Linked DNA regions of Homo sapiens. The protein of the gene in region 2 purifies or fractionates together with the protein of the main gene of each other region. This does not show direct contact. Each region holds a gene or a part of one and is shown on either strand. Other genes may lie near its edges.

Evidence for each region.
Region 1: the proteins of ANXA6 (region 2) and MCFD2 fractionate together in Homo sapiens (co-fractionation; one large-scale study listed by BioGRID). This does not show direct contact.

Annotation. Positions count from the first base shown.
Region 1 is NC_000002.12:46,901,210-46,903,590, forward strand, and holds the end of MCFD2 (multiple coagulation factor deficiency protein 2 isoform A precursor), read right to left. Parts: 3' UTR 665-2,381; downstream 1-664. UniProt on the Homo sapiens protein: The MCFD2-LMAN1 complex forms a specific cargo receptor for the ER-to-Golgi transport of selected proteins. Plays a role in the secretion of coagulation factors.
Region 2 is NC_000005.10:151,102,836-151,105,786, forward strand, and holds part of ANXA6 (annexin A6), read right to left. Parts: intron 2,469-2,951; coding exon 2,410-2,468; intron 858-2,409; coding exon 735-857; intron 1-734. UniProt on the Homo sapiens protein: May associate with CD21. May regulate the release of Ca(2+) from intracellular stores.

The DNA of each region.
Region 1 (2,381 bases), on a different chromosome or scaffold from region 2:
CAGGAGAATTTTTTATAAGGAAGGGCAGGCAAGGACCACAAAGGCCAGCATGGAATAGTTACTAACAGCAGCCAGCTGTGGAGAAGGAAGGTGTTCCAGCCTTGTCTGTTTGATGGGGTGATTCCACTATCTGAGGATCTGCTTCTCTCCCTCTCCCAGCTGCCAACAACTGGGAGCCCATTCACTAGATCCATCCAGAGGGGTAGTTCTGGATGAAGAAGGGTCAGTGCAAGGTCCGAGGGTCTCAGAGGGTACGGAGGGAGGCAATGATAATTTCCTTTTAAAAGGCAGAAAAAAGTGTGTCTTCTCAAAATGCCAGGGGAGACTTTTTTTGCTTGGGTCTGGTATGTTTTCAATAATGCTATCAAATTAAAAAACAGTCGCCAGACCAGGGGAAAACGCTATGCAGTCTCCTAGAGAATGGTGTCATAATTTAAATTTGACCAGAGAATGAAGATCCAAAAGTGATTTCATTCAGAAGAAAAAATGCCTAAAAGGGGAAAGTAACTTTGAATTCTGAGAATTGACTCCTGCAAAAGGAGCAGGGTATAGCCGAAGATAGTCACAGGAACTATGATAAGAGCAGGCACATGTGAACATTTGTAGTAAACACACCCTGCATGTGGCAGGAGAAGCTGATGTGAACAAAATCAACTGCTCGAGGTTTTGCTTCATCAGTTTTATTGGTCATATATCCAGAATTCATCATATATAAATCTTTCAAAATAATGAGCTATTACAAGAATAGTTTACAAGTCAGCTCTGACTGCACAAATACTTGACACAGGAAACCATTTTTACAAATACATATGTTTTCTTATAATACTGTAATAAAGAAAATAAGTCTGTATACATCCTACGACAAATTTTGTAGTCTCTTTTTCCCATTCAATCATCGTTTCAGGTTTTCTATTACAGAACGTCCATCACATCCAATAAACCAAATTACAATCTGCTGCTTCTTCTCATTTTCAAATACTATAAAGATTCACACTGTTAAAGGGTTTTTTGGGTTCCTTTTCTAATCTTTCCTGATTTGAAAAGAATCCATGTATCTAGGCTAAAAGAGGTAACTTCAACAATATCCCTCTTGACTAGAACTTCTATCTGATTAATCATTGTTTGGTGAATTATCTTTTCACTTCCTACTTAGGCTAGGCCAGGTGGTAGTTTTACCCCTGCTGATAAAGTCCTGACATTCCTAATAGTTCCTAAACTGCAAATAAAAAACCCTAGAAACGAGTGAAATAGAAAAGAAAGCTAAACCACTATTGATTAGAGAACACACTCAAATTCAGGGTCTCTCCCAGGTTGAAGAAGACAGAAAAGCAATAAAGTATAAGGATGTGGCAGTAGTTGTATAAAATACTGAAAATCTGAAAGAGTCATCACTTAAGCCAGTAGTGTATCATTTCCAAAATGTCAGAGGATACAGAATCTTAGACTCTGTGGCTAGGCTGAACTCAGAATCTCAGACTCTGTGGCTAGGCTGACATTCTTATGCTGTGGCTTTGAAATAGCCTAATAAATATCCACTTGCCCAGAGCAAGTAATCATTTAGGCCAGGGGAACTTTACAGAATACTGACCATGTTTGCCTGAAGAGATAGGAACCACCAGGGCAAACATTTGGTATTCACTCCACTTCACTGTTACTGAAAAGCATCCACTTGGCAAAGCCTGTTGTTTTACTTTTCAGGTGATGTGAATTAAAATTAAGAAACTAGCAGTATTCTACTACAGTCAAGTTCCTGAGTACTCAGCTCCAATTATCTAATATTCTTGAAAGGATGCTGATATGGTTTGGTTGTGTCCCCCCACAAATCTCAACTTGAATTGTATCTCCCAGAATTCCCACGTGTTGTGGGACAGACCCAGGGGGAGGTAATTGAATCATGGGGGCCAGTCTTTCCCGTGCTATTCTCGTGACAGTGAATAAGTCTCATGAGATCTGATCAGTTTATCAGGGGTTTCTGCTTTTGCTTCTTCCTCATTTTTTCTTGCCACAATGTAAGAAGTGTCTTTTGCCTCCCACCATGATTCTGAGGCCTCCCCAGCCATGTGGAACTTTAAGTCCAATTAAACCACTTTTTCTTCCCAGTCTCGGGTATGTCTTTATCAGCAGCGTGAAAACGGACTAATACAGTAAATTGGTACCAGTAGATTGGGACCTGCTGAAGAAATACCCAAAATGTGGAAGTGACTTTGGAACTGGGTAACAGGCAGAGGCTGGAACAGTTTGGAGGGCTCAGAAGAAAACAGGAAAATGTGGGAAAGTTTGGAACTTCCTACAGACTTGTTGAATGGCTTTGCCCCAAATGCTGATAGCAATATGGACAACAAAGTCCAGGCTGAGGTGGCCTCAGATGAAGATGAGGAACT
Region 2 (2,951 bases):
GGAACTAGATAAACAGGTATGAGAGAGCTTAGTGGGATGATAGAAGTGTTTGGAAACCAGCTGCATTATGGGAATGGTTGTACAACTCAGTAAATTTACTAAAAACTGTTGAATTGTACCCTTAAAACAGGTGAATTTTATGATATGTAAGTTTTTCGTTTGTTTGTTTGTCTGTTTTTGAGATGGAGTCTTGCTCTGTTGCCCAGGCTGGAGTGCAGTGGCGTGATCTCAGCTCACTGCAACCTCTACCTCCTGGGTTCAAGCGATTCTCTTGCCTCAGCCTCCTGAGTAGCTGGGATTACAGGCATGAGCCAACACACCCAGCTAATTTTTGTATTTTTAGTAGAGACAGGGTTTCACCATGTTGGCCAGGCTGGTCTTGAACTCCTGACCTCAAGTGATCCACCTGCCTTGGCCTTCCAACGTGCTGTGATTACAGGTGTGAGCCACCATGCCTGCCCATGATATGTAAGTTATACTTCCATAACATTGCTTTAAAAAAAGCAAAAAATGGGCTCTTGTTTTATTTGGAAATCTTTAATTATAAACCTTTGATTCTTTTGGAATTGATTTCGGTATAAACAATGCAATACAGACCCCCTTTCATTTCAATATCCTGGCTGTTCTAAGCGGTAACCCACTGGAAAAAAGTCCATGGGAATAAAGACTTCTAATCTTATATTAGGGATCTGACACTCACCCGCTTCCTGCTAACCTCTAGCCCCTCCCCTTACCTCAATGGCTTGGTGGAGAGACTTGTCATATTTCTCAATGAATTCCCTCCGGATGTTGAGCAGGTCAATCTCACTGCGGGATACCATGATCCTGGTCAGAGTCTTCTCATCTGTGCCAGCACCCTGGTGGAGCCAGGCAGGAGGGAGACACAGGCGGAAGGAGAGATAGAGCCCAGTCAGGCAAGAAACAGTGGTATCCCATCTGCCTTTCTCCCTTGTTCCTTCCAAAAACAGGGCGGATGTTCCACCTCTGTCTTCTGCAAACAGTCCTGACCAAAATCCCTCTGTGCCCAGGACTGGCCAGACTGACACGCAAAAAAGATGTGTGTGGGTTGAATAGTGTCCCCATGTCCACCTGGAAACTCAGAACATGATGTAATTTGGAAATAAGGTATTTGCACATGTAATTAGTTAAGATGAAGGCATACTGAATTAGATTGAAGCCTAAACCAATAACCAATATCTTTAGAAGAGGGAGGGCACAGACATACACACAGAAAAGTGGCTAGGTGAGGACAGAGGCAGAGACCGGAGTGATGCATTCACAGCCAGGAAACACCAAGGACTTCTGGCAACCACCAGAAGCTAGGAGAGGCAGGGGAGTGCTTCTCCCCCAGAGCCTCCAGGAGGACCCAACCCAGGCGACACCTTGATTTTGGGCTTTTGGCCTCCAGAACTATGAGAATAAATTTCTTTTGTCACCCAATTTCTGGAATGTGTTACACCAGCCCTAGGAAACTACCACCGGGCCCAAGGAGCAGGCACAGGGCATGGAATGTGTGGGCAGCCAGAGCTGCCTCTGCCCCCAGGGAGCGACAAGCACCAGCCTAGGAGTCAGAGCTAGGTTCGAGTCCCAGCTCTGCCTCTTAGGAGCTATGTAAATGTGGGCAACGTTTTACCCTACCTAGGCCTGAGTTTCCTCCTCTATCAAATGAGGATGCTACCACAATTTCACAGGACTGCCATGAGGGTCAGCTGTGGTCAGAGAGATGAAGCCCTTGGCACAGGCTTGACACATCGTGAGTGCTCAATGAATGGCTGTCACATTTGGAGACTGTAGGGTGAGGGTCTCAGGTTCCTTCCTACCCTCCCACCTGCCCAGGCTATCTGCAGTTGAGACTCCAGTGGCTGAGAGGGTGGCCAGTGTGGCTTGGGCTCTCCCAGAAGGGCAGGACTAGACTCAGAGGGGAGCGCTTGTGACCTTTGATGACTATTTGTCCTAGGAGACCCTGTGTCCCCGGATAGATTGTGAGCTCTGAGAGGGCAGAGACTGTGTCCTACCCAGCCCTGTGTGCCTCCAGAGCACATTTCTCAACCTTGGCATTTGGGGCTGGATAATTCTTTGTTGCGCAAGCTTATCCTTTGCACTGAGGTTGTTTAACAGCATCCCTGTTCTGTCCCCACCAGATGCTGGTAGCAACAATCTCCAAGTTGTGATGACCAAAAATGTGTCTGGATATTGCCAAATATCCTCCGGGGCGGGGGAAGGCGGGGGAAATCACCCCCAACTGGGAAATACCATCCTAGAGCCAGACAAGGGCAGATGCTAATAAATGTCAAATGGGAAGAAACAGCTGCCAGGAATCCTGATCTGGGGGATGGTGCACATCTGTGTGTTTGTGTGTGTATGTAAGTCAGTGCTTGAAGGGAAAGGAACGCCAGCATGTTTTCTTACCTTCATGGATTTGTAAAGTTTGTCGGCAAAGAAGAGAGGCTTGTTCTTGACACTTTGAACTGGTAGGAAGAGCAGAGAGATGCGGGGAACGTGGTCAGAGGCTGTGAACCCAGACTCTGGACCGGCCTCCCCCATCTCCCCACCTCGTCTATCCCTGCATGGGTCTGCAGATCATTGTCAACCCCAGGGTCATGCTCAGACGACACCTTTGCTCCCCTTCCCCATGCTTCCTCCTCTGGCCCATCCTTAGGCCTGGCTCTCAATTGGTTGCAACTCTCTTCCTTCTAAGGTGCTTACAGCTAACCAAGGTCAGGAGAGGATTCAAAGGTAATTAACTCCTCATGAACCCAAGGCACGGGGCCTCAAATTTTTAAATGCATTGGAATCACCCAAAAAGCTTGTTTAAAACTCAGGGTTTAGGCTCCACCCTAAAGATTCAGATTTTGGAAAGATTTTGAGCAGTGGTTCTCAAAGTGTGGTTTCCGGACCAACAACATTAGCATCACTTGAAAACTTGGAAGAAAGGCAGATTCTCATGCCTC